3 separate regions of the Homo sapiens genome follow, and all the other regions are reported to be linked to region 2. The links are microRNA targets in miRTarBase. Many come from high-throughput screens and were not tested one by one. Region 2 holds a microRNA gene; each other region holds the end of a gene's coding sequence.
Evidence for each region. Region 2 holds the annotated microRNA hsa-miR-7157-3p (UCUGUGCUACUGGAUGAAGAGU, at 1,373-1,394, opposite strand). A microRNA usually pairs through its seed, bases 2 to 8, with sites in the 3' UTR of a target mRNA and lowers its output. Matches are read on the target gene's strand: a 7mer-m8 pairs with bases 2 to 8, a 7mer-A1 pairs with bases 2 to 7 and ends in A, and an 8mer does both.

Region 1 (3,212 bases), not on the chromosome of region 2:
GTCATTTCAAATATTTTAATGCAATTTATTTTTTAACTAGGTACATGTGAAGATTTTTTGGCAGCTTAGCGTGGAAACCATTGATCACCCTGCTCTCATTTCTACCTGTTCTGTGTTGGCAAGGGAGAGTGCCCAAATGAGCAAGATATCGCAGCAAAACAGCACTCCAGGGGTGAACGGAATTAGTGTTATCCATACCCAGGCACATGCCAGCGGCTTACAGCAGGTTCCTCAGCTGGTGCCTGCTGGCCCTGGGGGAGGAGGCAAAGCTGTGGCTCCCAGCAAGCAGAGCAAAAAGAGTTCGCCCATGGATCGAAACAGTGACGAGTATCGGCAACGCCGAGAGAGGAACAACATGGCTGTGAAAAAGAGCCGGTTGAAAAGCAAGCAGAAAGCACAAGACACACTGCAGAGAGTCAATCAGCTCAAAGAAGAGAATGAACGGTTGGAAGCAAAAATCAAATTGCTGACCAAGGAATTAAGTGTACTCAAAGATTTGTTTCTTGAGCATGCACACAACCTTGCAGACAACGTACAGTCCATTAGCACTGAAAATACGACAGCAGATGGCGACAATGCAGGACAGTAGACCTCACCCTTTCCAGACTTTAGAGCTTGTGGCTTGAATGTTAAAGGTGTGACCACCGACACCACTCATGTCAATGGCTGAAAGTTGTCCATTTCCATGACTCAAAGACCCATTGGAGGCTATTTTCTGGGATCAGCACTGAAGAGTTGATTAGCTAAAAATGTTAGCCTTGTAATTCGAATATCTGGTTTTAAATGATAGAGGTTTTTGTGGGAATCAAAATCCCCCAAATGTTAAGGTATATGGTAAAAAAAGAAATATCTGGGATCCCGATGTTCTTAATAAATCCTGACTTCCCAAGAAATGCTTCTTTTTTAAGTTGACAAAAGGAATGGGGAACTGGCAGGCCGCGCAGAAGGTTCTTGGTTTTAATGGATAGGCTGAATTGGATTAAGAAAAGTTGAATGCCACCTATGGTAATCTATTTGTGATTTTCTTCTAAATTATGTATTATAAATTCGTAGAGCTATAGAAAGCAATGAGTGTGTAATTTGGAGTGATTTTATATATGGCATAAACTTTGTTTTAACATAATTAGTACTGTTTTCCCCCAAAAGTACAAGTTTTTGAGTAGCAATGTCAGGTTAAGTAAAGAAACTTCATCACATCTTATAGGTAGTGTGTGGCCAATTGACTTAAAAAATACAAATAACATTTAGGAAGCAAATAGATTAAACACAAAAATAAAACTAAAGCATAGGAATTATGTTTTTGAGATACCTTTGGGCTTAGATTGGCATTGTTTTATTCTAAAAACCCAACTCAGTGGTGTAGAGAAACTTGTGTACCAAAATTTTAGTTTCTGCAGATGCTAGTGTTTTTTTGGATACAATTTTGACAACCAAGTTAGTAAACAAAATATCTTAACAGTTTGATGACACAAGCTACTGATGAGGGTTTGGAATATTAATTCAGAAGGTAGTTTCTCTTGTGTTCAAAATAGCTGCCATGGGGCTGTTACTTTTAAAGTCAAAATTTTCTTCTGAAGGCTCATTTTGGTATTTGATCTTAACCAAGTGATTATTAGAGAAATGTATCAACTCCATGCCATCTCCCAAAATAATTGTCTAAGAAAACTTGAAAGTGTAAGGTTTTAACCTTTAATTTATTTCTCTTAAATACATCTTTTGATATTGTTGTTGTGACATTTCTTTTTCTGGTTAGTGGGCTTTCCAGACTTTGTACCACTGCTTCTGTTTATTCATTTATATGCTTTTGTGTCCCATAAATTATTTCAGAAAATGCTGATAAAACTCAGGATATTGACATTTTTGTTGAGACTAAAAAATGGCAGTCGCTAAAGTAGGGACTCTAGAGTCTGGCTTACGTCAGTGTTGGTAGTTTAGATTGTCTTTGTCAACGTTTTTTCTTCTCTCTTTTGCTTTCTTTTCTTTCTCTTTTTTTCTTAGCACAGTTCTAGCTCAAATTTGTGTATTTTTTGTGTGCCTGGGCTGGAGATGAGAGACTGAGTCATAACTGATTTAAAAGTTTGTGTTATCAGGTATCTTATTTGAACATGGTCATTTTTGGCCACATTGCTGTTTCATACTAGGACTTGGGATGATGTAGCCAGAATAAAACTCAAGTTGCACCCTCCGGTTGGTGGAAGATTGCTGACCGTGCCGTTTCTGGGCAGGAGAAGACATCATGGTGTCCAGCAACTCAGCAAAGCCATTCTTAAGAGTCGTGAGGTCCTTCTGAATGTAAAACTGGAGCCCAGGAGAAGCTGTCCCAGGAGGGCTGTTAACTCCCTATAGAGCCAGGAGACAGGATAGGGGTTTCTAGGGTCCAACACCAGCTTACCTTGGAGTATGAATCTACCCATGAAGGATGAGAGATGTTTTGAAAAACTAGCCAGGACACACCCACAGGATCCTACTGGCTCCTTAGCAGCTGATTGGTGTTACATAATTAACTTAATTGGAGATGCATTAGGTCACTTGAATGTATAAGCAAGCACCTATGGTAGGCGCTACAGACATTTAAATCTCTTGGGAATTCGATGCTCCCATGGAATTTATACCAGTTATATGAATTGACTTAAGTATCTTGAAAAAGAAACTTTAGAGAAAGCATCAGGGGTGTGTACTCAGTATTTCAAATCAGAACACAAGATTGGAACTTTTGGAAAAATGGGTTCAAGCTTTCCTATTAGCCATGGAAATGCAAAGTTTAGCAGAAGCAAGCAATTAGGCAGAGAACAAAAATGTTAAGCATGGTGTTGTCTATCTTATTGAAGTGGTTGGAAATGAAAGCTTTTAATTTGATAGATTTATCAGTATAAAATTAGGGAAACCACGTGTGGGGAATGAATCAATTTAGAGCTTCGGGAATTGTGAGGTGACTTTTGTAACTTTTGTTCTGTGTGTGACCTGTGAACCACTAGGATGTGATCTGCCCTTGTGGGCAGGTCCAGCATAGTTAGGAGTTAGGCTTTAGCATAAATTTCTAGCTGCATCTGAGTCTCCTGGGATGGGTGCTCTTTGGCTGGTTTTGGCTGCGGATGGTGAGATCAGAGCAGCTCTTCCTGCTGCTGGCCCCTGCAATCAGTTGTTGGGATGCCAGTGCAGATCACTAAGTAGTAAGATTTTAATCAAACACGACCAGGTCCGAAATGCAGGTC
Region 2 (3,261 bases):
CCTATGAGGCATAAACTATTAGTCATATTCTACAGCAGAAATTAAGGTGTAGAAGGATTAAGAAATGTCCTCGGCTTACTAAACAACAGGTCTTATATCTAAGTTTCAAATTCATGTCTAAACAATCTAAGTTTATTAATTTCTCCCACATCATACTGCTTCCTGAAAAGCAGTATGTTCTATTTTACTACCAAGACTGCCTCCATGTCTAAAATATTCAAGATGTGGCACCATCTTCTTATGTATATGAATGTGTTATAAAATATATATCAAATGGCTGATCTTAGAGTTGGAAAATAATTTTAAGTCTAGCCCAAAATGTCAAATCTGAGATTCAAAAAGATTAAAATAATTGCTCAAGATCACACAGTTTTTTTGAACCAGTCCAACACTGAAACAATGTTATCTAACACTAATTTTAGTTTTCTTTTCACTTATTTCTTATTCTCACTTAGACACCTATATTTGGCAATGTCATATATTCATATAAACTTTATTATATACTCTGTGATCACATCTACACATTATCATTAAAGACAATAAAATTTAGACAACACAATCAACCATCTTTATTTTCATAATCTTTATTTCCCTTAGGTGGAAAATCAGTGATTTCAATGTCTTTGGCCTGCAGCTCATGCCATATCATGTGTGTTTAATAAGTCTTTAATAAGTCTTATTCCTGTTTAAATTCATTGGCAATGCAAGGGCCTTGTTTTACAGACTTATAGAACATAAATCAGCTTAGATCTTTAAAAGTGTCTTTAAAAAAACTCAAATAGATGTTTCCCTTTTTTTCTATTCTGAATGTCTAAAAATCTATGAGCACACTAACTTATGCTCCTAGAAAAATGGACTAGACAGACATTTCTTGATCCTTATGTACAACTTAAAACTCTAGAAATTATACATAAAACAAACATAAGGTGACTATAAAAGTAGAGAGAAAAAGCAACCCAGCTGGGTATCTTGGGACCAAGAAATTCCATGGAAGTGTGTTTCCTAAGTGTCATTTTGTCTCATATATCTCAGACTCAAATCGTATAAGCTGGCAACCCAGAAATGGCAACATACACAGAAAAAATAAAAATAATAATCTGCTCTCTCTAGCTAAAAGACCAGGAAAGAAACAACCTAGCAAGCACAGCAGAAAACTTTACTATAGCCAGCCACCACAGGAAAAAGGCTGTGACACACCCACACCAGCAAAGGCCAAGTGGGGATCCTGGGCTTCCACACACCCCTGATGGTAATGAAGTGTCCACCCCTTCTCTGCTGAGGTGGTGTCAGAAGCAGCTCACTGGAGGGTCAGGACTTCCACCATCATCCTCTAGGTGACACTGTAGAGGCCATCTAGGTAGCCTGAACTCCCACTCTTCATCCAGTAGCACAGAGGAGTCCCAATTTCATCTCTGGTGCCAATGAATGCTGAATGGGGGACCTGCTACTCCGATAGGGTAGCACCCCTCACTTTCCCCTCCTAGACCGATGTCAGGGAAAGACAGTTAAAAACAGAAGGGTTGAAAATACGGAGATACATGCAGTAGAACATGTTCAAGTTCAAACAAAATTACTCATCATACCGAGAACTAGGAAGATTTCAAAGAGACTGAAAAAATCACAACTAATAGATGCCAACACCAAGATGACAGGGGTGTAAAAATTATCTGAAAAAGATTTAAAAGTAGCTATAATAAAATTTTTTTAAAAATAAAGGCTTTAGGAAAGAAATGGAAAATCTCAGTAAAAAAAATAGAAGAAAGAAACCGGAACAAAATGGAAATTTTAGAACTGAACGTAAAATAACTTAAATAAAAAGTTCAGTGAATAAACTCAACAGCAGAATGGAGGAAATGGAAGATGTGTCAGTAAACTAAAAAGTAGAATAATAGAAAATAGCCAGTCACAACAACAAAGAAAAAGCAGAAAGAAAGAAAACTGAACGAAGCTCCAGTGACCTGTGAGACTATAGTAAAAGACCTAACATTCATGTCAAAGAGTCCTACAAGGAGAGGAGAAAGCGTGGGGCTAAAAAGGACTTGAAAAATGTCAAGGCTGAAAACCACCAATCTGGCAAGAGACATATACCTACAGATTCGAGAAGCAGACTAAAGCTCAGAGACTATAAACCCAAGACGCATCATAATTTAACTTCTGAAATTGTGATTTGTGACAACATGGGTGAACTTGGAGTACATTATGCTAAATGAAATGAGCCAGACACAGAAAGACAAATACTTCATGAGCTCACACGTGGTATCTAAAAAGTCAGACTCTTATTAGTAGAGAGTAGAATAGTAGCTACCAAAGGCTGGAGTGAAGATGGGATGGGGAATAAGATGTTGGTCAAAGGATACAAATTTCCAGTTAGACACGAGAAATTAACTTTGGAGATAAATAGCACAAAAATTAGTAAGTACATGGGTGTTATGATTAACATGTTAATTAGCCTGAAGAATCATTCCACAATACATACATATATCAAAACATCACCTTGTACTCCTGAGATATACACAATTATTATTTGCTGATTAAAAATAAAAATAAACTTCTGAAAACTAGAGACAAGAAGCAAATCTTAATAGCAGCGAGGGGGAAATGACATGTTACATAGAAGAAAACAATTTTAATAATAATAGATATCTCATCAGAAATCACAGAGAACAGAAAGAAGTGGCCCAATATTTCTCAAATATGAAATGAAAACTGTCAACCCAGTGACCTATGCCAAGTGAAAATATCAGAAATAAAGAGAACATCAAAACAGTCTCAGATGAAAGGAAATTAAGATAATATGCCACAACAGATGGCAAAGAATGGACAAAAGGAATTTTCGAAAGCAATAGGGAAGTAAGCAATTAAAGAAGAAGCCTGTGAACATCAAGAAAAAAGAAAGAACACTGTGAGCAAAAATACGGGTACATAAAAGTAGGCTTTCCTTATACTGAGTTTTCTAAGTTGTTTGATGGTTGAAGCAAAAAAAATCTAACACTGTTGTGTGCAGAGTAAATCTTGAAGATAATTATATTACAAACAGGGGAGGCTAAAGAAACATAAAGGGATGTAAAGTTTCTATGCTTCGCTTTACTGGGTAAATGGTGATGCTTGTAGACTGATAAGTAATGAATATATACTGCAGTACCTAAAGCAACTGCTAAAAAAGTTAGACAGAGAATATACCTGACGACACTATAGATATATGAAAGACATTTTGTAGATGTGGATAGATTATTCTAAAACTTATGCAAAATGGCAAAGAAA
Region 3 (3,261 bases), not on the chromosome of region 2:
ATCTAAATTGAACTGTAGGAAACAGGCCTCTCAAACATGCTGACACATTCATCTCTTCCAGCCCTGGCACAAAAACTGTTTCCGATGTGCAAAGTGTGGGAAGAGTCTTGAATCAACAACTCTGACTGAAAAAGAAGGTGAAATCTATTGTAAAGGTAAAATTCATTTCAGTTACTGCTGTCCATATGAATATTCCACACTGGTTCTTGTTTAATGAAATGTCACTGGCATTAAAAAAAAAAAAAGAAAAGTATGCCACTATTTTCTGAAAATAAAATATCCCAAGATGCTTATAGATGACAGAGAACCACAGTTAAGTTCCTGATCATTTAAAACTCCCCACCAGATAAAAACACCACAAATAGCCATCTTTTGCCTTCATGTCTTGAGCAAAGCGTAAGTATATGGAAGAAAACAGACAAATACATACCTTACCTGGCCTGACTCATGCTTGCAACTCAGCAGGACCACGCTGAACACTATAGGGCCAGAATGTGTGGACTTGTCTTTGCAGCTTTAAGATATTTAGTACATGACACATTTAACATCTTAAATAAGTTGAGCTCTTTTACACAGCAGTTTAATTTATGGGGGTTTGTTGAGTGGGTCTTAAGCAGTGCTAGCAAAGCTTAATGGACTTGCACTAACTATCCTTCCTCCCTTTCCTTTGTAGGATGCTATGCAAAGAACTTTGGGCCCAAGGGATTTGGCTATGGCCAAGGAGCAGGGGCTCTTGTTCATGCCCAGTAAGATGTAAACCCTGAACTAAACATCACACACTGAGAATCTCTTCATAATCTAGGCACAGATAATCTTTAACACTAAACTACTGTGAAATTCTACCAGCATTAAGTACTGTATATCGCCCTGTACTTGGATAGGCTGGCTAACTCGTAGGAAGAGAGCACTGTATGGTATCCTTTTGCTTTATTCACCAGCATTTTGGGGGAACATTTCTTTTACATTTTAAATAAAACTTCAGCTTGATTTGGGTGTTCATTGTCTTTTAATTAATCTTTTGGAGGAGATGCTCTGATTTCAGTTAGTGGAAAGTCATTTGGTTCCCTACCTTTGTTACCCCATTACCCAGCTGACTCACTAGGTTCATGTTTGCATTACAGCTGTTGAAAAGGATCTCTCTTTCAAGCAGGCAAGTGTGCCTTAAGAGTAAAGGTTGCAGGCCGGGCGCGGTAGCTTACGCCTGTAATCCCAGCACTTTGGGAGGCCGAGATGGGCAGATCACGAGGTCAGGAGATCGAGACCATCCTGGCTAACACGGTGAAACACCGTCTCTACTAAAACTACAAAAAAATTAGCCAGGCGTAGTGGCGGGCGTCTGTAGTCCCAGCTACTCGGGAGGCTGAGGCAGGAGAATGGCGTGAACCCGGGAGGTGGAGCTTGCAGTGAGCCGAGATCGTGCCATTGCACTCCAGCCTGGGCAACAGAGCGAGACTCCGTCTCAAAAAAAAAAAAAAAAAAAAAAAAAAAAGGTTGCTAGGCAACAGGCATCATTATTTCAGCTCCTCAAAGCTGGTGTTCAGCAGTGCAGCATCTCCTCCTTTCCCTCCCCACCGTACTCTTAAGTAAGTTCTTTTGATTATACCTAAAATTCAGTACAAACAAACACCTATGGGCAATTATAGAATCAGAGACTTAGTATGATTCTTTTTAAAGACTCTACACTGTGATCTAATAGATGGTGACCTACTAAGTCCTGGAAACTGGGGTGTTTCACACATTTTGATTCTGTATAAGTAGCAAAGAATGTTGCATTGTCTGGGCACATTCAGCTGGCTTAGGTAGAAGAGGAGCATTAGACTTTATAAGGTATGGTTTCATTATTCCCCCAGAAAGTTTAGTTCTTTACTAGAGATTCAATCCAACTCCCTCACCCCCAGGAGCAGGGTGTAATAGGTCTGTAATGTGTATTATTAGTAAAATTGAACCAGCCCGTGAACATATCTTAATCTTTTCCAAGGTTCATTTTAACATACTATACTGTGTGAGTCTCGCTCTCTTGCCCAGGTTGGAGTGCAATGGTGCGATCTCAGCTCACTGCAACCTCCACTTCCTGGGTTCCTGCGATTCTTGTGCTTCAGTCTCCTGAGCAGCAGGAACTACAGGCATGCTACTGCACCCAGCTAATTTTTTATTTTATTTTTTTTAGTAGAGATGGGGTTTCACCATGTTGTCCAGGCTGGTCTTGAACTCTTGGCCTCAAGTGACTCAACCACCTCGGCCTCCCAAAGTGCTGGGATTACAGGCATGCACTACCACGCCTGGCCAATATATTGCTTATTTTGAAAAAGCTAAAGGGGATATGGTATGTACGACATCAAAAAAAATAAATAAGCAGAAACAAAGTGGGAGGAAGTTGGTGGAGGGTGTACTGGGTGCTTATTTCACATCATAGCCTTGAGCAACTTCAGGTGTTTTATGAGGCATACCAGTTCCATCATGGTGGGGCAGGAGAGGTAGTTAAGCAGTCTAGGAAATAATTGGCAATCAAAGAGGCTGAAGGAGAGAAGTTATGGAATAACTTCTGATTCTGTATGTGGTAGAACATGTCCACAAATTCTTTGACCTTCCCATCAAATGATAGTCTAATTCCCCTCTCTTTGAATAAAGGCCCACCTTAGTGACTCATTCTTAGTATTTATTATTTTGGATAAGGCTAGGTTAGAAAAGACAATACAGCTTTTGCCCACCTCTTCCTCTTAGGATGCTTACTCTTGGAATTCAGCCACCATGTTCTGAGGAAGCCCTGACTACATGAGGAAACCACATGTAGGCATTATAGCTAAGGCCTCAGCTGAGAGCTCATTCAACAGCCAGTATCAACCATCAGGCATGTGAGTGAGGCAGCCTTCAGATTATTCTAGTCTCTGGTCTTTGAGCCATCCCAGCTGATCCCAGGTGGAGCAAAGTGAGCTATTCCTGTTACGCCCTGACCAAATTGCAGATCTACGAACAAAAATGTTTTAGACCACCAAAGTTTGGGGTAGTTTGTTAGCATTCCTACCATGTTTCCCAAACTCTACTGGAGTTGCTAGTAGATATTCAAGAGGAAAAACAATGTAAATGAAGTTTCCAGGTGACTGGTAATTTGAGATTTCTGTCTGGTAAAATAAAACAAGATATCCATTCATACTTTAAATCATTCTTGATTGAGAGCCATGGCAAAATAGCTACTCCAACACTGTGAGATTAGTTTCCAGAGGTTCCAGGAGTAGAAAAAGGAAATTGGCTTTGGGCCAGACT

Region 1: miRTarBase lists CEBPG as a target of hsa-miR-7157-3p. Seed matches in the 3' UTR shown: 7mer-m8 at 1,997-2,003.
Region 3: the mRNA of CSRP2 is a reported target of hsa-miR-7157-3p. Seed matches in the 3' UTR shown: 7mer-A1 at 803-809.

Annotation. Positions count from the first base shown.
Region 1 is chr19:33,379,104-33,382,315 of GRCh38, forward strand. It overlaps CEBPG (CCAAT enhancer binding protein gamma), which reads left to right. Exons shown (of 2, transcript NM_001806.4): 2 at 41-3,212. The coding sequence starts at 137. The coding sequence ends at 589. Among named protein-coding and RNA genes, the nearest start is that of CEBPG, 7.0 kb to the left of the region's middle.
Region 2 is chr2:140,585,254-140,588,514 of GRCh38, forward strand. It overlaps MIR7157 (microRNA 7157), which reads right to left and starts at 1,432; the gene lies at 1,373-1,432. The region is part of intron 43 of LRP1B (LDL receptor related protein 1B); the gene reads right to left. RefSeq lists a silencer at 1,211-1,260.
Region 3 is chr12:76,856,441-76,859,701 of GRCh38, reverse strand. CSRP2 (cysteine and glycine rich protein 2) reads left to right here. Exons shown (of 6, transcript NM_001321.3): 5 at 62-155; 6 at 674-993. The coding sequence ends at 750. Among named protein-coding and RNA genes, the nearest start is that of CSRP2, 21 kb to the left of the region's middle.